Linked DNA regions of Homo sapiens. The protein of the gene in region 3 purifies or fractionates together with the protein of the main gene of each other region. This does not show direct contact. Each region holds a gene or a part of one and is shown on either strand. Other genes may lie near its edges. The genes, in order: BTRC, AP2M1, IFNAR1 and PTPRS.

What was found.
Region 1: the proteins of IFNAR1 (region 3) and BTRC purify together in Homo sapiens (affinity purification with western blotting; 5 studies listed by BioGRID and IntAct, with this or other methods). This does not show direct contact.
Region 2: the proteins of IFNAR1 (region 3) and AP2M1 purify together in Homo sapiens (affinity purification with western blotting, with the first as the bait; 2 studies listed by BioGRID). This does not show direct contact.
Region 4: the proteins of IFNAR1 (region 3) and PTPRS purify together in Homo sapiens (co-immunoprecipitation; 2 studies listed by BioGRID and IntAct, with this or other methods). This does not show direct contact.

What each region holds. Positions count from the first base shown.
Region 1 is NC_000010.11:101,531,365-101,539,479, forward strand, and holds part of BTRC (F-box/WD repeat-containing protein 1A), read left to right. Parts: intron 1-930; coding exon 931-1,068; intron 1,069-1,587; coding exon 1,588-1,706; intron 1,707-3,296; coding exon 3,297-3,546; intron 3,547-3,989; coding exon 3,990-4,108; intron 4,109-5,178; coding exon 5,179-5,289; intron 5,290-6,928; coding exon 6,929-7,007; intron 7,008-8,115. UniProt on the Homo sapiens protein: Substrate recognition component of a SCF (SKP1-CUL1-F-box protein) E3 ubiquitin-protein ligase complex which mediates the ubiquitination and subsequent proteasomal degradation of target proteins. Recognizes and binds to phosphorylated target proteins.
Region 2 is NC_000003.12:184,177,847-184,185,698, reverse strand, and holds the end of AP2M1 (AP-2 complex subunit mu), read right to left. Parts: intron 7,482-7,852; coding exon of another isoform or gene 7,476-7,481; intron 6,843-7,475; coding exon 6,577-6,842; intron 5,531-6,576; coding exon 5,448-5,530; intron 5,055-5,447; coding exon 5,049-5,054; intron 4,851-5,048; coding exon 4,715-4,850; intron 4,615-4,714; coding exon 4,473-4,614; intron 4,004-4,472; coding exon 3,884-4,003; intron 3,788-3,883; coding exon 3,652-3,787; intron 3,549-3,651; coding exon 3,451-3,548; intron 2,943-3,450; coding exon 2,831-2,942; intron 2,218-2,830; coding exon 2,083-2,217; 3' UTR 1,608-2,082; downstream 1-1,607.
Region 3 is NC_000021.9:33,327,720-33,335,834, forward strand, and holds part of IFNAR1 (interferon alpha/beta receptor 1 isoform 2 precursor), read left to right. Parts: intron 1-6,893; exon of another isoform or gene 6,894-7,382; intron 7,383-7,804; coding exon 7,805-7,928; intron 7,929-8,115. UniProt on the Homo sapiens protein: Together with IFNAR2, forms the heterodimeric receptor for type I interferons (including interferons alpha, beta, epsilon, omega and kappa).
Region 4 is NC_000019.10:5,204,134-5,212,053, forward strand, and holds the end of PTPRS (receptor-type tyrosine-protein phosphatase S isoform 1 precursor), read right to left. Parts: coding exon 7,832-7,920; intron 7,636-7,831; coding exon 7,457-7,635; intron 6,673-7,456; coding exon 6,546-6,672; intron 6,462-6,545; coding exon 6,336-6,461; intron 4,259-6,335; coding exon 4,104-4,258; intron 3,925-4,103; coding exon 3,789-3,924; intron 2,710-3,788; coding exon 2,641-2,709; 3' UTR 1,375-2,640; downstream 1-1,374. UniProt on the Homo sapiens protein: Cell surface receptor that binds to glycosaminoglycans, including chondroitin sulfate proteoglycans and heparan sulfate proteoglycan.

The DNA.
Region 1 (8,115 bases), on a different chromosome or scaffold from region 3:
AAGGGCACAGAATTATCAGCATTCTTCAGTCACAGTATGGTTACAGCAAGCCCATTAAGGTTTATTGACATGAGTTGGGAATCAATCTCTTAGCTGGCCATGGTGGCTCACACCTGTAATCCCAGCATTTTTGGAGGCTGAGGTCAGGAGTTTGAGACCAGCCTGGCTAACATGGTGAGACCCCTGTCTCTACTAAAAATACAAAAATTAGCCAGGCATGGTGGCACACACCTGTAATTCCAGCTACTCAGGAGGCTGAGATAGGAGAATCACTTGAACCTGGGAGGCACATGTTGCAGTGAGCCAAGATCGCACCACTGCACTCCCTCCTGAACGACAGAGCGAGACTCCATCAAAAAAAAAGAAAAGGAAAAGAAAATCAATCTCTTTACAGGCGAGTAGGGTAGGTAAAATAAATTGCTAGGCAAAATTTTAAAGCTTTAAAAAATGGTTTACTAATAAGTAGATGAGAGAGTTAAAGAGATTGATCCCTTCATACATAGCAGTGTGACTGGTAAACTTGTACTCATAAGCTCATATTTAAATATCTTCTGAATTGAACCTCCTTAGAAGTTCATCAGTAGCAATCAGTAGCAATGGCCATCACATATGTAAGAGCACTGAGTGTATAACCTCACGTAGTTCGTAGCTTTTCTTCTCTTGATGAGTAGTCTCTTTCCACCAGATTTATTATTTAATTGAACAAATTATAGGCAGGGAAGTTCTAGGAAACAACCTTTAATTACCTTGCAAAAGGAAGAATATTTTATAAATATAGATAGTAGCCTTTTAAAGACATTTTTTAGTTTTCCCTAAGTTGTGTATATCCCATAGAGTAAAGCATTGAGCCATTGATTGTCATTAAAGCCTAAAAAGAGTTTGATTCTAGGTGTTTCCTAACACTGCCTCTTTCCCATTCCTTCTTCTCAGACAATAGAATCTAATTGGAGATGTGGAAGACATAGTTTACAGAGAATTCACTGCCGAAGTGAAACAAGCAAAGGAGTTTACTGTTTACAGTATGATGATCAGAAAATAGTAAGCGGCCTTCGAGACAACACAATCAAGGTGAGGTCTATTCAGTTGTAGAAAGGTAGCAGAGGGAGCAAGAGTGACCACATTCATAGCGCAGTCTAAAGCATAAACTCTAAGCATTATTTCTAGAAAGTAAGTGAAGATTTTAGATTGTTTCCAGTCCCAAAGCCAAAATCATTTCCTTAAAGGACAGACATCAGCTTCCCCACTATACAAACGGGTAGTCCTAGGGTTAAATTCTCTTCTTGAAATGCACTGAATGGGCTGTTACTCTTTTGGCCATCACATAATTATAGACTACCCTGTTCCTTAATGAAAAGGATAAAAGTTTGCATTAGTACTGAAGCTATATGTGTGTGTGTGTGTGTGTGTGTGTGTGTGTGTGTGTGTGCGCGTGTGCGCGCGCGCGCGCTTAGCTATACCTATAGAAAATGCATTCCACACTACTCTGGGCTTTGATTATTTTGGGGGATCAGACACGTAATAGGACCAACAAGTCTCCACAGCACCCCATCATCACATTGATCAAAAGGATCTTATTTGCCATCCTAGATCTGGGATAAAAACACATTGGAATGCAAGCGAATTCTCACAGGCCATACAGGTTCAGTCCTCTGTCTCCAGTATGATGAGAGAGTGATCATAACAGGATCATCGGATTCCACGGTCAGGTAGAAAATTTCAAATGCTTTTTTGAACTCTGAAATATCAGCTCTGCTCTGTTCTTTGTCATAGATAGTAATTTTGTATATATCGGCACAGTTCTGAAACTAAAGAAGAATAAACCACCAGGTCCCCATCATTTCTGTCAGTCTAGAACTAGAAAACTTGATTTAGAAATGCTTGAGGTAAGTTTACATTTTCGCACATTGAAGAAACTACACATTCTATTTTAATTTGGAGGATCATCTATTACAGAAACTTTTCTTATCCTTATGGTAAACTTTGCATTCCTTACAAAAACCACCTCACGGGGGAATGATATGAATGCAATGAAGCCTTCCTTTCAGGTAGTGGTAACTGTAGTGCAGGTCTGTATTATCTCCTTTGAAACATGTACAGGTGAGCTGTGCTCTCTTTGCCAGCCCCTCCCCTGCCATCCCTGCAGTTTTTAATTGCAAGCTTCACTCAGGTAGGGGCCCTCAATTTCCAGAGGCATTAGTGATTTGATGACACAGCCATTATACTGCTGGAGTCCAGGATAGCTTGAGTTCTGGGTACCAGCAGCACTGCTGGGAACCTCTGTTAGGAATTTTGCCGTAAGCTAAAGGATTTAGCAAACATAATGCATCAAAAGTAACTTTAAAAAAAAAATAGACCTAGGAAAAAAGCGGTTAAGTGCATTGTTAGATACTCTGAAGTTAAATGTTTACCATTCCAAGTTATCCTCTGTGAATAGAAAAGACGGTTCCTGTTTTTTGTCTTTTGACTTAAAGGCATAGCAAGGCATAGCAAACTTGGCCCTTGTAGTTACTGACATTTAACATTTATTGGTGCTTGTGGAGTGAGTGCCCCACAGAATCTAAAACACTGCAGGTGCTAACATCATTTATAAGATAAAGAAAAAATGATATTCTATAAAAGGGGGCTAAACTGGAAAAAAGGAAATAACATGTTATAAAACCTTAAGTAAATACACAAAAATAGAATAATCAAAATATATAATCACACAAAATTCTCAAGCTATCCAAGGGCCCCACACTCTGCTGTGAAGCCCATATTTACAATGGGGGGTCTATTTTAAACCCCTACCCACTTCAGAACACAGAAATGGGGGCTTAGAATTAGAGTCATGGTTATCTTGGCCTTTGACCTTTATGATAAAACCTGAGATCCAGGGTAATCAAACTCAAATTCACATTACTAAGTATGTGACAGAAGCATCTTGGCCTATTTCATTTCTGGCTCCTGAGGGCTATCATTGGAATGGGCACTAATGCTATTGTTATTAATCAGATTCCTCATTTAAAATGTATCTTACTAATGGTATCAAATTGAATGTGAGAAGTTTTACAGTCTTCAAGTCTGGGCCAAATTATTAGGTGACAGTGGCTGCCACTTCATCCTTGCCCTCCACAACTTGCCCATATTTCAAGCAGTATGTCTTAAGGACACACTGGCAGCATCCCATCCCCTTCCTTCTCCCACTCTCCCAGTCTGGCCCTCTCTCTAAATATAAGGGGTGGAAGGGCGCATGATGGTCAAATATAGGTAACAGATTGTAGCTTGAGTACCATCTAAATCTCATCTATCACTTCCAGAGTGTGGGATGTAAATACAGGTGAAATGCTAAACACGTTGATTCACCATTGTGAAGCAGTTCTGCACTTGCGTTTCAATAATGGCATGATGGTGACCTGCTCCAAAGATCGTTCCATTGCTGTATGGGATATGGCCTCCCCAACTGACATTACCCTCCGGAGGGTGCTGGTCGGACACCGAGCTGCTGTCAATGTTGTAGACTTTGATGACAAGTACATTGTTTCTGCATCTGGGGATAGAACTATAAAGGTAATAAGGCATTTTTCAGTAAGTTTCCAACTTAGAATGGGGGAATTCATATGAAAATTTGATCAAGGGCAATTTCATATTTAAACGTTGCTACAGAAAAATGTAATATTTAATTCAGAGACTAGTCTACAAGTGAAAAGGTGTAATAAGTGAGACGTTGTGTGACAATTTATCCTAGATATTTTATTCCTATAAATAGTGGTGAGTGTGAGAAGAGACTAACCCTAGAAGAGTAAATCAATCTGAGGAATTCTCATGTGGTAACAGCCAACTGCAAATTAGCCTCTGTTACCATGAATTTAAATTGTCCTTTGTTTTATTTGTTTGAGAAGACTTCCCTCTAATGGTTCAGTCCTGTTTTCTGCTTCTCTAAGACTCCATTTGCCATAGATTTTACCAATAAAAGCACCAAATCAACTGCTCAATGCCATTTTCTTTTTCAGGTATGGAACACAAGTACTTGTGAATTTGTAAGGACCTTAAATGGACACAAACGAGGCATTGCCTGTTTGCAGTACAGGGACAGGCTGGTAGTGAGTGGCTCATCTGACAACACTATCAGGTGAGCAGCAAGTGCCTTGTATCATAAGGGATCAATATTATGCTCCCATTCATTATTAATGCACAGATCATACAAGTCTTCAATTTTGTTATGTTTATAATCAACTGTTTTTCCTTTCTGTAGCTTCTTACAGGTCAGAAGTTTGCCCCAGGCAGAGAAGCAGCACAGCAAAGCCTTTTGTTGCCCTTCTTTTTAAATTTCTCCTGTCTACCGTTGAAAAGTGCTAATAAACAGCTAACAGCCTTTTCTTTGCCATTGTTTTTAAGAAATGAAAAGAAAGATTTGTTTCCTTACTAGAAATTATGTAATTTTTGTCTTAGCATTACATAATTGGCCAGAGAGTTACCTGTCTTTGAAATTATGAAGATTTCACAGTTGGAAGTCCTTTTTGGGGTTTTCCCTTCACAAAGATGAATGACATAGATATGATTATAATTTGGAAGATTTATCCATCCTCTCCCTTCAGTGAAGTATTAAAAGGATGAAAAGGCCATTAAAAAAGAGCTACTGTTTGTTATATCTAAGGAAATTATTCCTAGAAATCACTTGAATTGCTCTGAAAACGTACAGTTTTTATAATTAGTACACAAAAGTTCTTGAGAACTGACTTTGCATTTCTATTCTCTGAGAAGAGCTGTCCTGGACAGTGGTGAAAGAAGTGTCTGCCGTGGCAGAGGGGGAGGTGCTTTGTGAGAACAGGACATCACTGATAATCTGTATCTCTTTCAGTTTGGTGACTTCAGGAAACTGCTTTCTTAGCTTGGTCATTTCCTTCTCAGGCAACTGCGTGCATTGAATTCGTTTTTATGCCTGGAAGAACCTGTTTACAGAATTATGTAAAGCCCTGTGCTTTGAAAATACATTTTACATTTGAACTTAAACCTACATATTTCTGTGTGAGTTATATAGCAGAAAGGAAATAAATTACATTGAAAGCAGTACATATCTGTGTGGGTGGTGATTGATTTTATTTTATGAATTTTTAGAAGGCATATGAGGTGTATTGTTATAACATTCCAGGCTTAGAAAAGAATACGTGAAAATTCACCTGACTTAATTTTCTCTTCCAGATTATGGGACATAGAATGTGGTGCATGTTTACGAGTGTTAGAAGGCCATGAGGAATTGGTGCGTTGTATTCGATTTGATAACAAGAGGATAGTCAGTGGGGCCTATGATGGGTGAGTGTGCTAACAGAGTGTAAAAAAGAGAAAATCTACGTCTTAATCCTTCCTTATGTTTATGGTGTTAAACATAACCATTCCTTGTTTCTAAAAGCTTATAGATTTTACACAAAATATCTGATACCATATTTCTTTAATCCGTGTATTTACCTCTCCTTGGTTTAGTGTCCTGAAATATTCTTCCCATTCATTTTATTATACTTGTTTGCACATGGTTGTCATTCATATTTTGGTTATTTGGTTATGTATTTGACTGTTTTGCCCTGTAAAGCAAAGAACAAGAAAAACCCAGTGTTAACAGGCTACCCATGTAAAAGGGTAACCTGTTAACAAAACAGAAACACTAGAGGGCAGTATTTGGGGACTTAGTGTGGTAAGATCTTGAATTTTGATTTCTTGGGTTTTTTATCTCTTTGAGTAATTTTTAAGAGTACAGTTCTCTTGTCATCACTTGTCATCCTAGCATTTCATTTATGAGTTTAGTCATCTTTATTTTCTTCTAATTTCTAGTGGTTATGGAATCCATTAATTTTGTGAATGGACCCCATGTCCACCAATCCTAAACACAGAGTAAATTCAAACAAAAGTAGTCTGGGCACAATGGCTCATGCATTTAATCCCAGCACTTTGGGAGACCGAGACAGGTGGATCATTTGAGGTCAGTAGTTCGAGACCAGCCTGGCCAACATGGCAAAACCCAGTCTCTACTAAAAGTACAAAAATTAGCCAGGTGTGGTTGCGGGCGCCTGTAATCCCAGCTACTTAGGAGGCTGAGGCAGGAGAATTGCTTGAACCAGGGAGGCAGAGGTTGCAGTGAGCCAAGATTGCGCCACCACACTCCAGCCTGGGCAACAGAGCGAGACTCCGTCTCAAAAAAAGAAAAAAAAATAGTTATTCACTTAGGAAGAACTCTTATCATTTCTTTTTGTCAATCTGCCTGATTTTGGCAGCTTTTTAAATATCAGAAACTAACAACATTATTTTAGTTCATGAGTTAACTACACTGATACATTCATTAGCCAATGCAAGCAGCAGGAAGTGTAGACTGCTCACTTCTTCTGCTTTGGGACAGCCATCACTGTTACAACCTTGGGAAATTGTTCAGAGTGTGGTGACATGTTCCAGCTTGGTCAAGACAATATTTTCTTATTGTCCTGGCTTTGATCTGTACCCACCTGTCTTGGAATTTGTCTGCTATGTACCTTGAGGAAACATGGCCTATTAAAAGATTTTTGGAAGAGCTACACTTATCTTATTTAAATCAAAAGATGAGGGCTTGCTTATATAAACTCCATTGCTCTTACATGGACCCCAGTCCCTCAGTACATGTGACCTGGGCCACTCTTAGAAGTGCCCAGGAAGAGGATGCTTCACAGTTGTAGATTTCTAGGTCTGTGTAATATCATTAAAAGGTCTAATGTACAAGATCTCCTCTTGATCCCAAAGTATGGTATAACTTTACTGTTAACTGTCTTCAGTTTGGTTAAAGCTAGCCTGTTTCTCATTTGTAGGTTAATCACGTACATTTGAACTATACTCACCATCCATATTTATTGCCATGAATTTCTGCTATTCTTCCCTGCCTTCTCTTACATTTGCTTTTAACTAACATTTTTGTCCCCTTTTTGATCTTTAGAAAAATTAAAGTGTGGGATCTTGTGGCTGCTTTGGACCCCCGTGCTCCTGCAGGGACACTCTGTCTACGGACCCTTGTGGTAAGAGCCTTGCTGTTTAGAGAGCATTGGAGAGCAGGTGGGGGAAGAAATTAAACGTTGATGTGCTGTGGAATATGGATTTGAATTTAATAGTTACAACCTCACAAAACCTACAACTAAGTGGTAAGGCAACCAGTACATGACAATAAAATATGTTTATATAATTCCTTTCATCCAAAAATGCTTTAGAGACTATATATGGAGAGAAATGTGGCAGCTGTTTAACAGCTGCACAGCAACTCTACACAACAGTTTAGTGCAGGGAGTGAATAAGAATTCTGTATCCACCAGAAACAGCAGGGGGTACTAAGGGAGAGAGAATATAATTATTCAAATTGGAACCTGTCCAAAATCTGAGGACCTGTACACCTGTGCCTTCAAAAAGTGCCCTGGGGGCCGGGTGCGGTGGCTCATGCCTATTATCCCAGCACTTTGGGAGGTCAAGGCAGATGGATCACCTGAGATCAGGAGTTCAAGACCAGCTTGACCAACACGGTGAAACCCCATCTCTGCTAAAAATAAAAAAAAAATTAGCCAAGCATGGTGGCAGGTGCCTGTAATCCTAGCTACTCAGGAGGCTGAGGCAGGAGAATCACTTGAACCTGAGAGGCGGAGGTTGCAGTGAACCAAGATCATGCTTGCACTCCAGCCTGGGCAACAAGAGCGAAACTCTGTCTTAAAAAAAAAAAAAAACTGCCCTGGGAATCTGCATGAATCCCCCTGGTCAACCCCTTAGTTCTGCAGCCTATTCATGAGGTAGTGCCTCCAGCAACTTGAGCCCATCTTTTTTGTTCCCCATATACCCCCTTTTGACATTTGGGGAAAAAAGTGATTCAAAAGGAGGAATGCACTAAATTATTTATCATGTTGTTAGCCAAGGGCCCAGATTGATAAATGCTGCTTCCATTAGAAAATTAGTTGGAGCAACAGGGTGGACAGACACCACTCGGAGAAAAGATGAGAGCAAGCATTTGAAGCCCAGTGTTCTAAATCCTGACTGTCATCATTTAGGCATTCTTGGCTCTGGAGAAGAGAAAGAGGTTACATTTCTTGTCTTCCTTGTTGGATTTATGTGTGTATGTATAAGACAGGGTCTTCCTCTGTCACC
Region 2 (7,852 bases), on a different chromosome or scaffold from region 3:
CTCAGAAGCCCCCTGCTCAGTGCTTTGCTTTCGCGGGTCCCCAGACCCTACGGGCTTCTCAGCCTGGTGGCCAGCGCCACCCGCCTCCCCGCCGCGACCGCCTTTTCACTGTGTAATTCAGCCGACCTTTGTGAATTAAGCCCATTCAGTTCTTCCACCACCCCAGGGCACGACCAAATCCACCGCCAAAGGGCAAGAAAACCAGGACAACGTGGCCTGTATAAATTATTCCCTACCTACACCCTGAGCAGACTTCTCTGCACTCAATAAATGCCAATAAAAGGCTATTTCCTTTCACCGATTCCCTCGGGAAGTTAGGAATTTCCTCCAAAATGATGCTACTGCTTTATATTTAACGTGAATATTCCTCCAATTGGTCTCTAAAAGTGGCACCGAAAATTACATTATTACCCATTCATCCCTTTGGATTAAACATTGCCATCATGAGGCATCAATCCCGATATTGAACCATTTTACAGGAAATACAGGTAAAGAGGAATATGTTAAGTGACTTCATGGGGACAACAGGCAAATTCTGATGTGGTAAACTACAGAACTCTGGTTTCTTCCACAAAATTGCAAGACCTGAAGGGAAACATCAATTTTTAAAATTTGAGGAGCATTAACCAACCACAATGGACCTTATCTGGAAAAATTTGATAAGACACCTGGTTAAGTGAACACAAACTGGATGTGATATTAAGGAACTGGCCACGCATTGATCATAGTTGAAGCTGGGTGATGAGACATGGAGATTCATTATATTCTTTTTTTTTTTTTTTTTAATTTGAGAAGGAGTTTCGCTCTTGTTGCCCAGGCTGGAGTACAGTGGCGTGATCTTGGCTCACCGCAGCCTCCACCTCCTGGGTTCGAGCGATTCTCCTGCCTCAGCCCCCGAATAGCTGGGATTACCGGCATGCACCACCACGCCCGGCTAATTTTGTAATTTTAGTAGAGACGAGGTTTCCCCATGTTGGTCAGGCTGGTCTCGAATTCCGGACCTCGGGTGATCCACCCGTCTCGGCCTCCCAGAGTGCTGGGATTACAGTGTGAGCCACCGCGCCCAGTCCATTATGTTATTCTCCTTGCAAATCTTTCCTCCTACCACCCAGTCAGCAAGATTTGGGAAGCTTGGGTAAATGATGGAATTAAAAGGTCAATTTCTTAGGATGGCTACAAGACCAAATGTAAACTTCACACTTAATTTATGCTTAATCTAATTAGAAAACATCTGCCTAAGAATTAGAGAAAGAGCTGGGTGCTGTGGTGGTGCGTGCTTGTGATCCCAGCTACTCCAGAGGCTGGGGCAGGTAAGATCTCTTGAGCCTAGGAGTCCGAGGACCAGGGGGAATAAAAAGGAGCTAGGGAAAGAATCTATCCCCAGGGTACTGGGGCCCGCTGCGGCTGCATGCCCTTGAGGCTTTCTAAGAGGAGCCAGGAAACCTGGGCCCAGAACCCACAAGGATAAGGGCTTGGATGGCCCAGGAGGGGCCTAACTGGGACAAGACAAGGAAAGAGCCTTTAGAGTATTCAGTACAGAAAACTGCACGGAGAGCAACACCAGTTCCCTCCCCATGTAGCTCCCACATCAACACTAAGCCAGCAACTCCACTCTACAGAGTTTATTGGGTTTGTAACTGGACGAAGTCACACGTGTACAAAATGAAGCTCACACTATCCCAAAGCAGAGTAGGGACTGAGGCCGGGGATCCATTACTGGCCTTTGGGGGAGCTCTGAGGTGAGGGGCAACCAACCCTCCCACTCCAGAGCTGTGGCCACAGGGGTGGGAAGGAAAGGGAACCCACCTGGCTTTGGTCACAGAACTCAGAGCCTGGCATTAGGCCAGGACAGACAGGTGGATGGGAGAGCAGGAGCCTCAGAACTCCCCTGCCCAGGGAGCCCAGGGGCTGCTCCACCGGTCCCACTTGTAATGTGCTTGGCCCAGACCTAGACTCGGGCTGGTGCAAAGGGAAGGCAGCAAAGCAGGAGGGAGGAGACACTGATGTGTGGTGGGGGAGGGAGCGGCACCTGGACCTGTGGAGGAGGGTGGCTGGGGAGGTGGGCTAGCTGCCTAGTGGCAGCTAGCAGCGAGTTTCATAAATGCCACTGCGGCCAATGTAGCGCACCCATTTGATGACATCATGGTCGCTGTAGTTCAGCTTCGGTTCAAACACCTTCAAGTAGCGCACCTTGAGGCCAGAGGGCGCGAATGGCACCTGGGCAAGGAGAGCTAGTTAGAAATGTGGCCTTCCTCTTACAGCCGCTCTCCTCTGGGAAGTCCCGTTGCCCTGCCCTACTTCATCGCTACTACAGGTGTTTGTATGGCTGGGGTCCTGAAAGAAGCTGGGGCGGCGTGGGACCTTCTAAGAGGTGACTAAAGAAGAAAGCCCTACCTGTGACACCTTGAATCAGTTCCTTTAATCAGCAGGAGACAGCAACCAAAGAACTGCTTTAGAACATACTTATCCTGCTCAATATTATGAACTTAAAAATAAGGTGGAGAAAATTATGTCTAACATGCGCAAAGCAAAGTCAGCCCATTATCCTGTCTGTAAGTAAACTTTGTGTCTTACCTGGCATTTAAACAATCTAAGTTTTTTGAAAGAACTGTGTTAGGACAAGCCGAGAGAAGTAAAAGATTTGCCTCATCACAAATAGTAATTTCTACTAAGAGGCTTGAAAGGGGAAGAATGGATCTATGAATTAAAGCCAGTTCTTCTTTCTAGGCCTCAGTTTCCTCACCTCTAAGGTGCAGCAGTTTATCGGAATGATCTCTAAGAGGTCTTCCAGCATACCCTGGCATGACTCTAGGCCCCTCCTCTGCCATACCTCAAAGTTCATGGAAATGGGGGGTCGAGCCCATTTCTTCTTGTCGTTGGTAGGCAGAAGCTCAATCTCTGCGCTGATCTGCGATTCCTTCATGCCTGCCATGCGCTTGATCCTGGGAACACAGGGACAATGGGCAGCCCATTGGGGCTTGGAGGAGTTTCAAGGGCAGTTGCCCATTTCAAGCAAGGAGAGAGCCCAGGAGCTTGCAGGAGGTGCCAGAACAAGGAGAAGTGGTCAGGACCCTGCTAACCACTTGCTATGGAAACTTGGGTCTACTTCTTTAGAACAACAGGATGCAGTTTCTGCCTAGACACTTGGACATGCTATCGTTTGCTTTGTCTGCTTCACAGATACATTACAAAGGCAATGTATTCCCTTTGTAATGTATACATTACAAAGGGAAATGCCAAAGCATCTTAAAAAATAAGCACGTGCATGAACCCAAATGCAGGCGTGTACATACTCACATGGAGGTATAAAGACTGACAGTACAAGCAGAGGCTCCTAGAAAAGCAAACAGGCACACTCCCCTGCCCCTCATTCAGAAGGATCAAAGCTGAAAACAAGAGGGTATACTGGGATCTTGAGCCCTGCTGTGGCCTAATGAAGGAAAGACTCACTTCCACACGATGGCATTCTCGCTGGCCTTGTACTTGGCCTTCCCCTTCATGCAGATCACCTGCACCCCGCTTGTGTTCAGTGGGGTTGGGATCCTCACCTAGAAGTGACACACCTGTCAGGGAGCTCTGTCAAGCTGTGACATCAGCTACCTTTATTCCTAGGGACAAGTTCTTCCTCCTCCTTGAGCCCCCTGTCCTCACCTCGATCTTCTGAGCCAGCAGTGAGGGTTTAAAGTTGGACTTGATGACCACCTTGACCTCCAGTTTGGTGCGTCCCACTTCTCGCACTAGCGGGATCACCCGGAAGGGAAGGATGATGTCCTTGGTTGTGCGATACCTTAAGGGATGGGAAGCAAGGTTACCAAAGAGCTGACCCACTTCCTCTCCCCAGTCTGCCAGCAGCACTAGCTGCCTCCTCACACCCCAATGGCACCTCATAAGCTCAAACTCTCCATCTGGCGGGATAAAGCTGATGCTGCGTTCAGAGTCAAACTTGCTGAGTCGCACACACTGGTGGAAGGTGCAGTCATCAATGGCAATTGATTGCTTCCCGCTGCAAGCAGGGGCAGAAGAGGTCTCATTGGTACAGGAGAATGACAGCTGTCATGCTGGGAGACCACTCCACCCCAGGCTGGCACCAGAGACTATGAAAAGCTGCTAGAATGCAGCTTTGTGACTCGGAGGTCTGCCCCAGAGCTTGGGATGAGAGGGAAGCCTTGCAAGCTCATCTCTTGGGGCTCCTTCTGCTAGGGACCTGGGTGTTTCAGGCACACTGGGCAGAGGCTGTCAGTATGTACAGAAAAGGCCTTGGTCCTAGGGACCAAACAAAGGGGCTTGCTCTCTGAGGACGATCCCCTCATCTCTCGTAGCACTAATGTCAAGAGCGAACAGCCAGGCTTACCGTCAGGAACAGAGTTTGCAATTACAGTGGGAATGAAATCCAGAAGAAACTTGTGGTTCACTAGACCCCACTGAGCCCTCCAAGGGACACCCTCTCCCACCAGCTCTCCTGCCTCAGGCACCTCTTGCTTGTTTCATCAGCTGTGCCTTTGCCCTGCTTTTCAATAACAATCTTGTCATTCATCCCAAACTTGCATTCAGGCATGCCACTCAGGTAGCTCTTCATCACCACCCGGCCCGACACATGGGCACTCAGCACCTGCCCTGGTGATGGAACAGATAAATGGGGAGCAGCGGAGTCAGGCAGGCAGGCCCAGGATCCTGCCCTGGGCCCCCTCCAACTTTGTCGTGAGAGGGACCTCACCTTGTGGGGACATGAGCAGGTTCACACTCTCCAGCACATCCAGGAAGAGCTCATTCCGACGATACTTGATACCCTCTCGCCGCCAGCCAATCTGCCCAGTTACCTGGCTGGTGATCTGTGACTGCTCTTCTTTTGTCTACATGAGGGCAGAAACAAACAGCAATGGCCTCACTCCTCTGTCCCTTTAATCATCCTGTCTCTATCCCCACTCCACCCTCATTCCCCATCCCTTCTAGTCCCCACCTGTAATCCATTTTCCCCTATAAGCCCCAAAGGGCAGGGCCTGGAGAAACAAAGCAAAGCTGCAAGGGTGGAAGCTGAGGGAAGAGCTTACCTGATGCTGGAGGCCGCAGGGCCAACGAGGTGCCCACATGAAGCAGCAAGGGAGGCAGAAAAGGAGGAGAAAGCTATGAGGCTTGGATCCTAGAGGAGAGGGCCCAAGCTCGCTCCTCCTGAGGAATACCAGGCCTCAAGACCAGGCCTCCTCCCCCACCCCTCAGTGCAAAAGGAAACTGCTTGAGCTGTATTCCTGGTAATAGAGATGCTGAATTGGCTGCTCCTGCAGTGGGAGGACCACACAGAGCAAAATCGGCCTGCAATCATGGCAGGAGGCTCAGGCCAGCACTTCCTGTCATGGGAGGGCTCATGAGTCAGCTCAGACAAGGCTCAGGGGCCAGCTGAGATGAAGGGAGATTGGACTCCACCCTGACTATAGTCTGCACAATTCAAGTACCTGACTCTTGATGCCCTGCTGCGTGATGAAGGTTTTCAGCGCGCCTGTCTCGGAATTCTGTGGGTAGCCAAAGTCTAGAATCTCTGCAAAAAGAAGGGAACCATCAGCCCCTGGACAGAGCTTCTTCATTCCAGCCCCTACTTGGGCCTACACATCTGACCGGCACAGCTCCCAAAGCCCATGTGGGATCATCCGCAAGAAAGTCTTCTAGCTTTGTAGCATTTATTCTGTGATTTGTGCTTTACAGGAAAACAATTCAAATGTTTGATTTTTTTCAAATAGAGAAATCAAGGCCAGGTGCAGTGGCTCATGCCTGTAATCCCAACACTTCGGGAGGCCAAGGTGGGAGAATCACTTGAGCCCAGGAGTTCAAGACCAGCCTGGGCAACATAGCGAGACCCAGCTCTACAAAAAGTAGTAAAAATGAGCCAAGCATGGTGGCATGTGCCTATGGTCCCAGCTACTCAGGAGGCTAAGGCTGGAGGATTGCTTGAGCCTAGGAGGTCGAGGCTTCAGTAAGCTGCAATTGCACCACTGCACTCAGCATAGGTGACAAGAGCAAGACCCTGTCTCAAAAAAAAAAAAAAAAGAAAAGAAATCAATAGAAGAGTCACATGGCCAGTGGGTGGCAAGTCAAGAAGCTTTGAGCTGTTTTCTCCAGAAAATAGACATTGGGAAGGTGGAAGTATTCACCTTCTCTTAGATCACACTCTACAGAGGAACAGAGATAACAGTGCACCCCAAGAGGCTTGTAATATCTCACTCTCCCCCAGGCTCTGAAGCAGCTGCTGAGATGGAAAACTGGGTGGACAGTTAGTGAACTAAGGTCCAAGCCACAAAGGAAAGAGGATGAATACAGGAGGTTCAGCCACCAAACCTGAGTCAGGTTCCTAGCCCCTTGGAAGATCACCTGCTGGCCTATTTCTGTGTTCTACTTCAGACCAGCCTTCAGGTCTGGATGTGAACTGGCCTTCTGAGGGGCATAGAGATCCTAGCCCAAGAGACCAAATACTCAGGAAAGAAAGTTCAGAGTGTACCAGAGCCTCGGACCTACACCCACCTTCAGGCCAGGCCCAGCCTGGTTTTTTCCCACCCTACGCCCGCTGCCGTGCCAGCCCGCCAGCCTCACCATCCAGCAGCTCATATATGAGCACAAAATTGTTCTTGATGTTTTCCTCGCTGATCTTGCCAAAGTAGGCAGCCATCACGTCACACATCTTATAGAGGAATTCGAAGACCATGGCAGCGTTGACATTCTGCTTGGTGACTGCTGCCAGCCAAATGTTGGACCGCTTAACGTGGAAGAAGCTGGTGCGAGCAATGTTGGTGACGGGGCTGCGCACCTGCTGCCGGGCATGGATAACATTGACCCGAAAGGCATCCACTGCGTTCCTCCTGAGGGAAAAGAGTGCATAGGGCCTGCTCAGCACCCAGGTGAACCTTACCCCATAAGGATCAACCACAGCTGCTAACAGCCCCACCCTCCTTTCTGCAGAAGTCTGACACACACACTCCAAAGAAAGCCAATGCCTAAACCACTGGAGTGGTTCCCTTCTTATGACTCCCTGTGGAGGCATGGGAAGAGTGCCTGAGCTGGGCTAGTGTCTAAAGGCCACAAGAAATAGGGAAGTCAACTATTAAGGCTGATGTAACCTTAATAAAGTGAGGTTCATCAGGTTTAGAGACAGATATTCCTTACTCCCAGGGCTGGCCCTAATTTCCCAGCTTTATCTAGCTTCCCTGTAAGCTCCCAGGTCCAGGACAGAAAGAGACACTGCTTCTTCAGTCCTCCCGCTAGTGATCCCACCAGTGGGGAGGGCCGACTCCTCCAGATGTTAGACAAAGCCAGCATGGCTTCAGAAGTCACAAAGGAGGGAGAAGTACCAAGGGGCCATGGAATTGTGCTACCCATTCTTGCCCAGGATCCAACTCCAGAGCAAGTTGAGGGAATGAAAAAGGATGCAGGAAAACGATGGGGGCAGGCCCCCACCCACCTGTACCTGGGCAGCAGCTTGAGAGGCCGCTTACCTATTGCTACGGCAGCCAATGAGATGGGATGAGAGAAATGACGCCAGCAAGAAGAGGAGAGTGATAGCAACGAGAGAGAGGGTTAGACACACAACACACCGGGAGGGCGGCACACACCGTGAGGCAGAAGCAGACAAGACAGGCAAGGCGGCGTGTGACCTGGCCTTGGCTTGCCCAGTCCATCCAAGGCAGGAGGGGGTCTGGGGTGGGGGGTGTAGCCAGCCAGGTTCAGACAGGCCAGGCCTTGCCACAGCTGCAGCTCTAGCTCATGCCACACCACCAGCCAATGGACAAACGCCCGCAAGGGCCAAGCCAGCCCATCAGCCAGGGAGCCAAATGAAGAGCACTGCCACAGGCCCATTCTGTGACTTTATCTC
Region 3 (8,115 bases):
TGCATTCATGACACAGCCTCAAGAGGTCCTGGCCACATGTGCCCAAGGTGGTCAAGGTCCAGCTTGCTTTTATACATTTTAGGGAGACATATCAATCAGTACATCTAAGATGTACATTTGATTGGTTCGATCTGGAAAGGCAGGACAACTCAAAGCAAGGCTTCCAGGTCATAGGTAGATTTAAAGATTTTCTGATTGGTAATTGGTTGAAATCAATGGAAAGGAATGTCTGGGATGTCCTAAGGGGTTGTGGAGACCAAAATTTTATCATGCAGATCAAGCTTGTCCAACCCACAGCCCACTGGCCGCGTGCAGCCCATGATGGCTTTGAATGCAGTCCAACACAAATTCGTAAACTTTCTTAAAACATGAGGGGTTTTTGTTTTGTTTGTTTTCTTTCTGTTTTTTTGTTTGTTTGTTTTTAGCTCATCAGATATTGTTAGTGTATTTTGTGTGTGGCCCAAGACAGTTGTTCTTCCAGTGTGGCCCACGGAAGCAAAAAGAGTGGACACCCTTGATGCAGATGAGGCCTGCAGATAGCAGGCTTCAGAGAGAATAGATTGTAACTGTTTCTTGTGAAACTTAACGTCTGTGTTGTTGTTAATGGTGGTTAGCTTTTTCTGAATTCCAGAAGAGAGGAGGGTATAATGAGGCATATCCAAACCTCACTTCGCATCATGGCCTGAAGTAGTTTTTCAGGTTAGCTTTGGAATGCCCTTGGTCAGGAGAAGGGGTCCATTCTGATGGTTGGGGGACTTAGAATTTTATTTTTGGTTTACGTAACTATCTACTTTTTCCCCAAAAAAAATCATGTTGAAAACTCAAGACCTTAAGTTTACAGCTCAAGCTGATCCTGAAAGTTATCTCAGTGAGATTGTAATGTTGCTCAGTCTTTCAGAAGTTGTATAAATGTACCTTTTAGCCTAGTAAATGCAATTCTAGGACTCTAGATTAAGAAAACTATCCAAAATATGGGAAGACATTTACTTACATATTTGTACAGATATCTATATTTGGATTTATGTCAGACTTAAAGATATAGTAAACCATTTTGGTCGTGAAAATGAATGTGAAAGGTTGAAAGCAACCAAAATTATAAATGCATTATATATATATTAGATTAAATGTCCATTTATACATTTACATGTGGGGTAATTAATTGTTAATATACTAATATAAAACATTTTAATATACTAGTAAATTAATATATTGTATGTTAATGTTACATAACAATTTATGAAAAAATTATTAAAAGGAGATTGCCAATAATAATAGAGCAAAATCTGTGAAAACTAAAATCCTGTTTAATAACTTTATTTCCAAGCCCCTGTCCATTTATCAGTCAGTTATTTGTTGGTCTTCCAAATGCCAACATGCCTGTAACTTCAGGGTCTCCTTCTTTTAGCAGTAAAGGATTTTTTTTCTCCCTGAGGAAATCACTAGCTGTACCCTATAACATTTTCTATTCTTGTCTCAAGGCCCAAAATTACTAGAATTATAATATTCTGCACAAGATATTGTAAATACTACAAATGCCATCAGATCTTTTGTTAAACTCTGTAAACCCAGTTGCTACCCTTTGGCTGCATAGAATCTATAAATTCTAACAAATGGATGAGAACCAAGTTAAGAATTCTAGAGTGGGATAAGGGGATGTGATGTATTCTATTCAGGGATGAAGTTTTAGAGACTCCAAGTATGAAACAGAAAATTGAGGATGGGGAGACCTGATGGGTACCACATTAAGTTTAAAAAAAAAAAAAGTGTTTTCTCAGCTGTCTCCCCTTTTGACCCCATACTATAAGATCTAACTGGAAAGAGCAAGAAGCTGTCTCAGTTAAGAAAGTTCTATACAAGAACCCCTGTGGTAGAACAAGTCTACAACAAGATAACATGATTGCCCCAAGGCAGAAGTAAAAGAAATATTGTAGGAACCATAAATGAATTTAAAAGCTGATCTTTTAAAAAATATATAACTTATCAAAGTGAGAGATCAGTCCTTTATGATATTTAAGGAGTTCCTGTGAATGCACCATTATGCTGGATACTCTGAAAAAATGCAAATCAAGTATGAAGCGATATAAATTCTGCCCTTAAGGAACTTGCAATCTAGTTGGAGATTTATGTTTAACACAAAGAAGCAGTTTTTACAAATACTTCTTTTGAGGATTCTGGGAAGATGGCAGAGTAGAAAGCACCAGGAATCTGTCTCCTCACCTAGACAAGAATTGTACTGGCAGAATCTGATGTAACTATTTTGGAACTCTGGAGTCTATTGCAGGCTTGCAACTTCCAGGGGACAGACTTAGATGGTAAATTGCAGTTAATTTTGGTCTATTTGAGCTCTTAGTACAGTAGCAGCTACCCATCTTCCACCTCTCAACCCTTAGCAGACAGCTGTGCACGTTATTAGAGCAATCTGCACACAACTTACAGGAATCAGGTGGGCAAAAAGAAACACACCATCCAGATATCTGGGATCTGTGCTCTTGATTGGTCATTGCTCCTTCTCGTCACAAAAGCGCAAAGAGATGGGCGGTTGTTGTTGTTACACCTTACTCATTGTTACAACCCCCTCCCCACTCACTCCCCTGCCCCATGGATTTAAAGGGCTAGAAATCTCCCTCTGCTTCATTTTTCTCTTTCACTTTTGGGAGCCGGATATTAAAGACTAGGACATTTAAAAACAACTGCATTTATGGGGAAAATTAGAAAGTCACTGTACATACCTAGGGAAAGGCTCAGGAGAGACCTTAAGTTTATAGCTCAAGCTGATCCTTGGCACAGGATTAACAACAATTACACAGCAATTAAACAAAGCAAACACACACACACACAATGTAGTCTGGGAGAGTGATGTTAGCAAGATGGCCAACTAGAAGCCCCTTCTGCTCATCCCCTCATAAGACAGCCAGAACAACAAATAAACAACTACATTTTAGCAAACTTAACTAAGAGTGCTAGAGTGCATCAAAGAAGTAACAGAAATCCTAGTGAGCAGAGAAAAGTGGGATGGCCACATGGAGAATGGGAGGAAATGCCAGGATTCCTAGGATCATCTGGGAACGAGGAGGAACTTCTTCCTATGGCAAGGAGATAAACAAGAAGATCCCAGCTACACCATGGGCACCAACAGATCTCACCACTGGGGTTCCTTAGAGTCCAGACAGCAACTAAGCCAAGCTGAGGAAGCTGCCTAGAGTCTGCACAGCTGTGTTCCCTCCAGAGAAGGAGCCAACACTGTGCTCCACCTGCTGTGGCCCACACAGCTACTGTGCCACTCCACCTTGGAACTGGAACTACTTCTGGAGTGTGTCTTGCTTCGGGGACTTGTAGCCATGGCTTCCTTTCATCTGAACCACGCCAGGCTGGTGGCTCAACATCCCTAAGCTAAACTTTAAGCAGCTGTTACACCCTTCCCTGTGGAGTCAAGCAGAGGTGGAACTACTCCACCTACTCCTACCCCACTGCCCTTGGGCTAGAGCTGAAGCAGTATCCTATTTCCTGGGAACACACTACCTTGGCCACCCAGAGCAGTCATGCACCCCTGTGCCTAAGCTGAAGTGGTATACGGCATTCCAGGGAAACAGGGCCTGAACCACCCAGAGCAGTCACACTCCCCGGGCCTCAGCTGAAGGAGCACATCACTCCCTGCAGAATCAGTGCCCTGGCCAAACCGAGCAGCTATGCATCCCAGGGCTGAGCTGATGTAGTATCCTATGTCTCAGGGAAACAGAGCAGTGGCTGAGCTGAGACACCCTGTTCTACAGGCCAAATAACTGTAGTACCCCGCTTCCCTGGAGCTGGACTAGTCCTCTAGAGCCTGAGCTGCTGAGACACTCTGAGGAGTGGAGTCATCACTGTGCTGTTCCCTACCCCCCATTCCCAGCCCAGACAACAGCTATGCTTCACCATTTTGTAGTACTTGCTGCTGCTGCTACACTTGGCCTCACAGTCTGGGGTACTGCTTATCCCTAGCTATTCCAAGATTTAGAGTCATGACTTCATGGTGCCTCATCCCTTGGGACCTGTGTTGCCACTGAGCCCTATTAGCTCATATTCCCAAATTAAAACCATACCCTGCTCCCCAGGCCCAAACCTCCAGAGAACCCCTTCTTTATAGTCAGGCCAGTGCTATGCCCTGACCCCCATAGGGGTAGAATCAAAGCTACAACCCATTCTCTGGGCCTAAGCTGCCAGGAAGCACCTCCAGGTCACAAATCCTGGCTCTGTGAGCAACTACGTCCAAGCCCTGCCACAGAGAGCAAACCCACCTCAGCAACCAAGTGTCTCAGTAGGTTTGTGAGATCCTGAGCCTAGGACCTTTGCCCAGTAGCCACTCTGAATACCTTCATCTGGAATCAAGAGCTGCTGCAGCTGCATATATATAGCCCCTGTCAGACCTGACACCAAGAGGTGTTGCCTTGGCTGAGTCTCCCCATTGTGGGGAAGACAAGAATAGGAGGATCCTAAAAGCCTTCAACACTGAGAACATTAACAACCTACACTACCACTGCCACAAACTTCTGCAGCCTAGGCCCCTGAGGCACCCATTTACTACTGACATTGAACACAGGTAAAGCAGCTGCTTTACCATACCACTGCATCTGTCAGGAAACAGTCACCACACCCTTCGAAACCAGCATACTGAAACCCAACTGCTAATAAAAGACTTTATCTTTGAAAGCCACTGTCTGTAAAGTTTGGAAGAGGTAATTATCCTATCAACACAAAGACACAAAAACATGAAAAAGCAAGGAAATATGACACCACCAAAGGAAAGTAAGAACTCTCTAATGGTGGCCCAATGAAAAGAAGATCAACAAATTGCTGGAAAAGGAATTCAAACTAATGATCTTAAGGAAACTCAACAAGATACAAGAAAATACAGATAGTTCAATGAATCAGGAAAACAATTCACAATACAAAAAATTCAACAAAAAAATTAAAACATGATGAAAAACAACCAAACAAATCCTACAGTTGAAGAATTCAATGAATTACATTTAAAAAATACAATAAAGAGCTTCAATAACAGACTTGGTAAAGCAGAAGAAAGAATCTCTGAACTTGAAGATATACCATTTGATATTACTTAATTGTAGAAAAAACAAGTGAAACCCTACAAGACTTATGGGACATCATTAAAGGAACAAACGTTCATACTATGTAAGTTACAGAAAGAGGAGAAAAGGTAAGAGGCATATACAAACTATTTAATGAAATAATAGCTGAAAACTTCCCAAGTCTGGAGAGAGATACAGACATCCAGATCCAGAAAGCTCAATGATTCCCAAATAGATTTAACCCAAAAAGGTTCTCTCCAAAGCACATTATTATCTGTTGTCAAAAGTCAAAGACAGAGAAAGAATTCTAAAAATAGCAAGAGAAAGGCATCAAGTCACATTTAAGAAAATCCCCATTCAGCTAACAGCAGATTTCTTCACAGAAACCTTACAGTGCAGAAGAGGATGGGATGATATACTCAAACAGCCAAGAATGCTATGCCCAGCAAAACTATCCTTCAGGAATGAGGGAGAAATACAGTTTTTCCCAGACAAGCAAAAACTGAGGGAATTCATCACTGCTAGACCAGCCTTATGAGAAATGCTCCAGGGAGTCCTACATCTGGAAGTGAAAAGAGAGCAGTCAGTATCTTGAAAACATGGAAAAGTATAAAACTCTCTGATAGAGCAGATACACAAAGGAGAAAGAGAAAAGAATTAAACCTTATCAAACCATCAAACCACAATGATAAATAATAAGAGAGGAAGAAAGGGGCAAAGGATATTATTAGAAAACTTTAACAAAATGACAAATGTAAGGGCTCAAATATCAATAATAATCTTAAATGTAAATGGATTAAATTCCATACTTAAAGAGACTGGCGGAATATTTTTTTTTTTCTTTTTTTTTTTTTTTGAGACGGAGTCTCGCTCTGTTGCCCAGGCTGGAGTGCAGTGGCGCGATCTCGGCTCACTGCAAGCTCCGCCTCCCGGGTTCACGCCATTCTCCTGCCTCAGCCTCCTGAGTAGCTGGGACTACAGGCGCCCGCTACCACGCCCGGCTAATTTTTTGTATTTTTAGTAGAGACGGGGTTTCACCGTGTTAGCCAGGATGGTCTCGATCTCCTGACCTCGTGATCCACCCGCCTCGGCCTCCCAAAGTGCGGAATATTTTTTAAATGACTCAATTATATGCTTTCTATAAGAAACCCACTTCACCTATAAAGACACATATAAACTGAAATTGAAGGGATGGAAAAAGTTATTCCAAGCAAATGGAAACCAAAAGCTGTCAGGAATTGCTATACTTATGTCAGATTAAACAGACATTAAGTCAAAAACTGTAAAAACAGACAAAGAAGGTTATTATATAATGATAAAGGGACCAATTCAGCAAGAGGATATAACAATTCTAAACATACATGTACCCAACACCAGAGCACCCAGATATATAAAGTAAATATTACTATACGTAAAGGGAAAGATAGACTCCAATATGATAGTAGTTGGGGACTTCAGCACCCCACTCTCAGCTTCGGACAGATCAGCAAACTCCAAGTACAGTGAACTCAAAGAGACCACACCAAGAAACAGTCAAACTTTTGAAAGCCAAAGACAGAGAAGTGACTTGTCATACACAAGGGATCTTTGATAACATGATCAGCAGATTTCTCACCTGATACTTTGGAGACCAGTGTATTCAAAGTGCTAAAAAAAACAAAACCAAAAAACTCAAAACCCTGTATATGGCAAAATTGCCCTTCAAAAGCATAAGGAAATTAAGATGTTCTTAGATAGACAAAAGCTAAGGGAGTTCATTACCGCTAGAACTGCCCTGCGAGAAATGCTTAAGGAAGTCCTGAAAGGTGAAATGAAAGGGCACTAGACAGAGGGGACAGTGCAGATTCAGGCAGGTGCAATGGCTTCTGGGGAAGACCCAGCCAGTGGGGCTATTGCCAGCATCCAGTCAGCTGCCACCTTCCCTGACCCCAGTGTCAAGTGATGCGCAGGGTGATCCAGGTGTGTGAGGGGCAGCTGGATGTCCAGACTGAGGGCACTGGTGCCATCAGTGGCTATCCTACCACTCAATTCATGACCCAGGTGGTGATCCAGGGTGATATCACCAGTTATGATGCAGTTAACACAGAGGGGAAAGCTGCTGAGATACACTATACTTTCCCACCCCTGCAGTGGGAGATGGGGCAGGGGGTACCACATCAGGGAGTACAGCTGCTGTTGTTACTACCCAGGGCTCAGAGGCACTGCTTGGGCAGGTGACTCTTCCTGGCACTGGTCAATTATTTGTGATGATGTCACCACAAGGAGTACTGCAGGGAGGAAGCCAGCACTTGATTGCCCCTAGGACTCAACCTTATTTATTTGGACGTAACACCATTGTAAGTCAAGAAGCATCTCTATCTATCTATGAACATACAATGTGAAATCAAATTGAGGCCATAAAACAGTTGAACCTCATCATAAGAGTGACTCATCGGTGTCACTTCTAAGACCAAGAAAAATTCTATTTTTATGCAGAGACCATTTGTTTTTTAATTAAAAGACAACTCTATTTCAAAGAGGAAAAAAAATCAACTCTTTTTTCAGCTCTCTCAGATGCAGAAATGTAATTATCAGCATCCCTGTGCTGGGAGCAATCATTAGTTTTTTTAGATTTTTAAAATATACTTCATTATGTTTCACTGTATTCATTCTTTAATCAGGGATGTGAGGGATAGAATAACATTTAGAATATCTGTACAGTTTGTATATAATGTTCTTATTTCTTGTTGCTTTTATAGGTGGAAAAAATCTAAAATCTCCTCAAAAAGTAGAGGTCGACATCATAGATGACAACTTTATCCTGAGGTGGAACAGGAGCGATGAGTCTGTCGGGAATGTGACTTTTTCATTCGATTATCAAAAGTATGTGACTCTACTTACTGATTTGTCAGAATGACCTGAATAATTTTTACAAGTTTAACAACACCATAATTTTTAGATTTGGAAAGTGTTTGGTTTTTCTATTTTTTAGAAATGTTACGCCTATTTTACATAATATTTTTAACTTTGTTTCTGTAGAGACTTAGTCAAATACATCTTTGGGTGTTGA
Region 4 (7,920 bases), on a different chromosome or scaffold from region 3:
CGTGAGCCACTGCGCCCGGCCTTGATCTGTTGGTTTCTAAGAGACATAGTCCTATTCTTCCCTGAGCTGGGTCCCTGGTGTCACTAAGATCACCCCTTCTCATTCCTGGAACTTCCCTGAGGTCATAGGGGGCTCTTTCATCCTATCTCTGGCTCCTGTGGGTGGCTTCTATGCCCAAGCAAGAAGTGACTCAGGCAAGGGTATAGATACAAAATGGCTCACTCTCCATCCCCAGGGATGTGATTCTGGCTCAGTGCATGGATCTGCTCATTGAGTGGCCTAGGGGTGGAGCAGAGTGTCCCCAACCTGTTGCTTCCCTCCACGGACTCAGTTCTTCCCCAGGGCACTTCGAGAAGGCAGCACCGTGTGATGCTCAGGGCTGCGGGTGAGATGGGCTGGGGTACGAATCCCAGCTCCACCTCAAACTCATTGTGTGCCCCTCCCTGAGCCTCAGTTTCCTAATATGTAAATGGGGATTTTTTTTTTTTTTTTTTTTTTTTTGGAGATGGGAGTCTCATTCTGTCGCCCAGGCTGGAGTGCAATGGCATGATCTCAGCTCACTGCAACCTCCGCCTCCTGGGTTCAAGTGATTCTCCTGCTCCAGCCTCCTGAGTAGCTGAGATTACAGGCAGGTGCCACCATGCTTGGCTAATTTTTGTGTTTTTAGCAGAGACAGGGTTTTGCCATGTCGGCTAGGCTGGTCTCGAACTCCCGATCTCAGGTGATCCATCTGCCTCGGCCTCCCAACGTGTTGGGATTACAGGCGTGAGCCACCGCGCCTGGCCAAGGGGCTGGTAACTTCTATCTCAGAGTGTCTGGCCCATGGTGAATTCTCAGTCATGGTCACTTATTAGAATGAGAACACGAGGCAGCCCCTACAGGACCAGGGCTTGGGTTCAAATCTTGGCCTGGCCACTTCATCGGTGTTTTGAGTTTTTTTTTTTTTTTTTTTTTTGAGACAGTCTTACTCTGTCACCCAGGTTGGAGTGCAATGGCATGATCTCAGCTCACTGCAACCTCTAACTCCTGGGTTCAAGCGATTCTCCTGCCTCAGCCTCCTGAGTAACTGGGATTACAGGCGCCCGCCACTGCGCCTGGCTAATTTTTGTATTTTTAGTAGAGTTGAGTTTCACCATGTTGGCCAGGCTGGGTTTCACCATGTTGGCCAGGCTGGTCTCAAACTCCTGACCTTGTGATCCACCCGCCTCAGCGGTGTGTGGTCTTGGACAAGCACCACCACCTCTCTGGGCCAACTCCTCCTCTGACTGTTCACACAAGGAAACGAGATCAGCTCTCCAGGACCCCACCGACCTCCACCCCAGGGATGAAACTGGACAGGCAGGGGCGCAACAAAGACTCCACAATGGGCCGGGGTCAGACGATCTTCCTTTAATACAAAGTCGATATATCTACATACACGGGGGTGGGAAAACCACCCGGCTGCTTCCGCTGGAATAAACAGTGTTGAAAGTAACCGCAGACCTGCCCTTGTACAAAGAGGAACAACTCGCTTGCTCAGGGTAGGCGGGTAGAGGGGGGCCTGTCCTTCTGGTTTTGCTCCCAAACTGCCCCACAGTCCCAGGGGGAAAGGGTCCCTGATGTGGGGCAGCACAGCCATACAGCCACTGTCCCCGAAGAAGTAGGATCCTCTCTGTCTCCTTGGGGGCGGGAGACGGGGAGACAGCTCAGGCTCTCAGAGGAGGACCACTGTCATCTCTCTCCTCTTACAGCAGCGTCCCCCTCAACCGCACCCAACGCCACTGGGTCCGAGCTCCCCCATGACCTTACCCTCAGAACTGTATTTGATATGTCTGAAAATTTAATTTATAAAAATGAAACAAAAAGGGGGAAAAAAAAAGCCAAGAAAGAAAAAAGGACATCCCATTCTTCTGTGAGCAAAGCACACTTTCTGATGGTAGGAAAAATTAAAAAAAAAAAAAAAAAAAAAAAAGCCAAGGTACAGCCATGGGCCTGGCGTGCGCGTTTGCGAACGTAACTATCACACAAGGACGCTTTCTACAGTGAAAAAATAGACTGTCTTTGAACAGAATATGAATAAGCCAAAGTTAGTTCTCTTTGAAAGTCATTGACTGGCGAGTCTTTTGTTTGTTTCTCTTAAAAAAAAAAATGGAAAAAAAAATACACTATTTAAAAAAAATGAAATGTCACGGGATACAGTTACACTGAGAGTTTTAAAAGAAAGCTGGATTCTGGTCCCAGCCCAGTGTCCCCAGGCTGCAGAGCGGGGAGGAGCCCCCCGGGTCCCCCTACCACCGCTGGGGGAGGACGAGGGGTCCGTCTATGGTCTGTGCCCCACCCTCCTCTGGTTCTGGGGAGCACTCCTATTTGCTCACCATCCCCCCACCCCCCACCCCGGAATCTGGTTTTGGAATTGGAAGGAAAGGAGGAATGTGCCAAGTATTTGAAGGCGGCGGCCGGTGCCAGGGAGGTCGCTGGGGCGGCCGGGGCCGGTGGGGGGGCTCGAGGGGCTGCGTCGTCCTCGGAAATGGTGCAGAAACACAGCTGCTGCCGCTGCCACCTCCTGCCCTGCCCACTGGGGGTCCAGGCCTCAGGAGGTCCGCCCGGGAGGGGCAGAGGCATCCGGGGCCAGTGGTGTCGGGCCTGGGGGGAACCATGGCTTTAGGTTGCATAGTGGTCAAAGCTTCCGAGGTACTCCAGTGCCGCCTGGTAACAGAACTGGTACTCATCCTGGGGGAGCAGAGGTGACCTGTTAGTACCTCCGCTGCTCTAACGCCTCCCAGGGCTCCCTATCGCCCTCAGGAGCAGGCCAAGCTCCTCAGCCTTGTGCGTGTCTCTTGCAGAAGGTCTCTTTGGCCCCCACGGCCCTCCCACAATGAAGTGAGCTATGCCACACCTCTCTGCCTAACACAGCCAGGCTCTTCACCCGGAACGCCCTCTCCTCCCGTCTGCCTGGAGGCCCTATTCATCTTTTCTTTTTTATTTATTTTGAGACGGAGTCTCGCTGTGTTGCCCAGGCTGGAGTGCAGTGGCGCCATCTTGGCTCCCTGCAACCTCTGTCTCCTGGGTTCAAGTGATTCTCCTGCCTGAGCCTCCCAAGTAGCTGGGATGACAGGCGTGTACCACCATGCCCAGCTGATTTTTGTATTTTTAGTAGAGACAGGGTTTCGCCATGTTGGCCAGGCTGGTCTCAAACTCCTGACCTCGGGTGATCTGCCTGCCTTGGCCTCCCAAAGTGCTGGGATTACAGGCATAAGCCACCACACCCAGCCTCATTTCTATTTTTTTTGTAGAGATGGGGTCTTTCTGTGTTGCCCAGGATGGGCTCAAGCGATCCTCCCACCTCAGCCTCCCAAAGTGCTGGGATTACAGGTGTGAGCTGCCACGCCGGGTCCCCTCTACTCATCTTTTAAGACATGGCTGCTGTTCAGAACCCCCTCCACTGGAACATTCCCCTTGAAGCTAGGAGTCTGGGCCTCAGTTTCCCCATCTGTACATTGGTTGGACTTGGGGGTCAGTGGTTCTTGGCAGGGTCCAGGCTGAGCCACAGACTTGCTGTGACTTGGGGACTGCAATGAGCCCATCTCTGTCCACTCCAAGGGCCACTTCTCGCCTTTGACCTTCAGCTGACTGTTGTGTTAAAAGGGTTACTGGTCCCCTTCCAGTGCGGGAGGGGTCTGTGGACCGTCTACCCACAGTGACCCAGAGAGTCCCAGGTGGCTGTACCCATCTCACAGAGGAGGAAACTGGAGCTTAGGGGCAGTCGGGGCGTGAGGCCAGGCTGCCTCCCCTCCCTGTCCCATCTTTACCTCTGTCTGCACCATGGCCGGCCGCTGGGTTCGTAGCATCTTCACCGTCTGAAAGATGTCCACCACGCCTTCATACCGCATCCGCTCCAGCACGATGCTAAGCGTGATGAAGACGCCCGTCCTGCCCACGCCGGCACTGGTGGCAGTAAAGTGAGCACAGCCATTCAGGGGCAGGTGCTGGGGAGCCCTGATCTGACCACCCGATTCCCCGAGGACTCTAACAGCCCAGATGGGACAGCCTAAGCTTGGGGCTGTCCCCACCAGGCCTCAGTTTCCCCAGCAGGGCCAAAAGCTGGGACACTCGAGGGAGCTCACCTGCAGTGGACAGAGATGGGGCCGTCCTGGCCAAACTGCTCCTTAGTCTTATGCACTTGGCCAATGAAGTCGATGAAGCCCTCCCCCGACTTTGGCACACCCTGTTCCGGCCAGTCTGTGAACTGGAACTGCCGGACAGTCCGGGACTGGCCATCCTAGAGTGCAGAGAGCCCAATCTTGTTATCAGGTCAGCAGCGGCCATGGGGGTTTTTCTCCATCCTCCCTATCTTCACCCCCATTTTTTGTTTGTTTGTTTGTTTTTGAGATGGAGTTTCACTCTTGTCGCCCAGGTTGGAGTGCAATGGCGTGATCTCGGCTCACTGCAACCTCCACCTCCAGTGATTCAAGTAATTCTCCTGCCTCAGCCTCCCGATTAGCTGGGATTACAGGCATGAGCCACCAGGCCCGGCCCTCACCCCCATTTTGTACACTCTCTGCCATTCATTTACCCTGACAACTTACCGTCCTTCACAATCCAATGGTACTGCTTTCCATAAGAGATGCTCCAACCTCATCCTCACCACTTCTTGCCACCCAGCTGTTCCTCTCCCCACATTTCCTGTATGACATCCAGCACCTCCATCCTCCATCCTTTGCCATCCCATAGTGCAACCAGCTCTGCCCTTCCCAGCTCCTATTCACCATGATCCTCTGTCATCTTCCACTCTGTGCCATTTCGGGGCCCTACAGCACAACTCAACTCCATCACTGTCCATAGCTCATCAATGATGACTCATCTTCTACAACCCAATGGTGCCATCATCTTTCATCGTCCACCATCCAACACCATCATCTTCCACCATCCAATAACAGTGCCACTGCTACCACCCACTGCTGGTAACTCACTACCTTCTGCCGTCCCGAGTTCCACCCAACACCATCATCTTCCATCATCCACCACCATCCCCTCTTGGTAACTCATCCTTAACCATTCAGTGATGGCATCTTCCACTGACTGTCTTCATTCCCCACTACTCAACCATTCCTCTTTGCAGTCTCCTTTCCTACCACCCAGTGGTGCCATCCAACCACATCATTCTCTGCCATCTTCCATCCTTCACAACTCAATGGTGCCATTTTCCACCATCCATCACTAACAATTCATCACTCTCCACCATCCAAGGGTACCATCTTCCACTGACATTCTCCATTCCCCATCATCTGCCTTGTTCTAATCCCATCCTCCACCATCAAAATGGTGCCATCCAAAATTGTTATCCTCTGCCACCATTTGCCATCCAATGTACCATCTTTCCCTGATGTTTTACATTTTCTAAAATCTCCTTTCCCAACCCCATCTTCCTCAATCTTGTACCACCCATTGGTTTATACCATTGACTATTGTTTACTGTCCTTTCTTAGTCCTAGTATTTCCCATTGATTTTCTCCACCCCCTGCTGGCCAAACATTTGCCCTTCTCCAATTCTGTCTTCCTCCATCCATCACTGATAAAGCATCACCCTTCACTGACCCAAACTACCACATTCCACTGACATTCTCCATCCTGTTATGCGAATGTTCTTCTCTCCAATTCCAGATTCCACCCCTCCAAGGGCACCATCTTGCACTGCTCACAGCACAATGCCCGGTGATTGCTGTTCATTCAGCAGCCTTCACCATCCTTTGGCATCATCTTGGCCAACATTCCCCATCCTCTATCATCCCCTCACTGCGTTCTCTACCATCGTCGATCTTCCACCACTAACTTTGATCCTTTGTCACCCAACAGGGCCACCTTCCACTATGAGTCTTCATCTGTTGCCACCTAATACCTGGCCTTTCTCCCTCCACCTGACACTGCAGTCCTTCATTGAGCCAACACCATCCATACTCATCTCTCCTCACCCAACGGTGCCAGTCCCCACCATCTGACTCTCCTTGTCCACCGTCTACCACCCCTCACCCTCAATCCCTCAAGTCCCTTTCAGCCCTTTAACATCATCCTCCACAGGTGGCTGCTTCCAGAGGAAAGCCCCATTCACTTCCTTGAATATCATCCCCTGGGGCCATGTTCCCTAGTGAGTGGAGACACTGCAGGGTCAGCACAGAGATAAGACCCTCTCTTCCACCTATGTGGCAGTAGAAGCAAGTGGCCAACTGGTCAGCTGACACTTCTCCTGATTCCCAATGCTTATGCCTAACCCTTGGCCTTTGTATCCATCACCAACCAGGGCAGCCCTTTCCAGATCACTAAGGCTCCAGCCCCTCCCGCCAGTCTGTCTCTTCACTCACCCGGGCATCTGTGACCTTGAACTCTCGCAGGATATACTGAGGCATGTTGTATTCTGCCATCGGATCTACCACAAAGTACTGGTAGCGGGCAGAGCGCTCGGCCGGCCAGTACTGGTGACACTTCTCCTGTGGAGGAGATGGCGGCCGTGGTCAGCGCTGTCTGAGCCACAGTCTGGCCCTCGCCCTTCCCTGCTGTGGCCCCTAGCTCACCCGGCCCATCTCCCGCAGCTTGGTCAGCATCACCACGATCGTCGAATTGTTCTCCCACAGCATGCGCCAGAAGTCTTCCGTGGTCTCCGCCAGCGGCCCCTGTGTCGCGATGTAGGCCTTCTGCTGCCTGCAGGCGTTGGGGGTATGAGCCCAGGGCCGGCAGGGAGACCCGGCGTGGTACTCACCTGATGCTGCCCGGGAGGGTCAGGACCAAGCCAGTGACAGCTACACCTACCACCCCACTGCCTGCCAGGAATGGCTGCTGGGTGCACCACTTCCCCTCCTGGTGATCCCATTTTGCATGTGGGGAAACCACCAGTCTCATGACAAATTCAAATCCCTTGACAAAGCTGCGGGACTATCCACTAACCTCTCCTGATTTCTTCCCTCCATCTCCTTCAAGGGCCACTGCCCTACTTTCAGTTGCTTGCGTGGGCCAAGCTCTCAGCCCCGGGCCTTTGCACATGTGGCACCCTCTGCCAGGAACACCCTCCCCTCCTTTGCCAGGATTTCTCAATCTCAGTGCTATTGACATTTGGCGCTGGATTGTTCTCTGAGACAAGCTGTTCTGTGTACTGTAGGATGCTGAGCAGCATGCCTGGTCCCCACCCAGGCAGTACCAGTAGTACTCATGAAAATAAGAAATATCCTCAGGGTGTCAGAATTACCCCAATTGAGAACCACTGATAGAACAGATGGAATCACATTATGGACAGCAGCCATCAGTTAAACACACACCCAAAGATTCACGGACAGCAGCCATCAGTTAAATATACATCTAAAGATGTGTATTTAAACAGCTCAGGGCTACCAGTATCTCCCCAGCTCTGTCTCCCACAAGACTGGAGGCCTCTTGAGAGTAGAGATGGGCTCCTTCTGGGGCCCTGAGGTGGGAAAGGCATGGCACCTACCTGTAGCCATCAATGAAGCTGGCGTTGATGTAGTCAGAGCCCTCCACACCCCGGATGGGTTGCAGACAGACCCGTGTGCTCTCATAGGGCATGATGTTCACCAGGCGGTTCTTGAACTTGTTACAAGGCAGATTGGCACTGATGAAGCGTGACGTGTGGGCCTTGGAGTTAGCCAGCCGCTGTGGGGAGGAGGAAGCCAGAGGCCACCATCAGGATGAGGAAGGCTATGCTTTCAGCTGGAGCACCAATGGTGGATAGGTAGGTAGGGGCACCCTGCCACCACCTTCTAGTCCCCATTGCTCGAGGCGGGCCTGATTTTCGGCTCTTTGGGCCTCCTCCCCACCCCGCCCACAGCAGCCTCCACCCCGCTGGCACCTTGAACTCGAGTTCCATGCCAGTGACGTGTTCGCCAGGCTCCACCTGGGCCAGCTTCTGGATGTAGGCATAGAGGCTGCGTGCGGGCA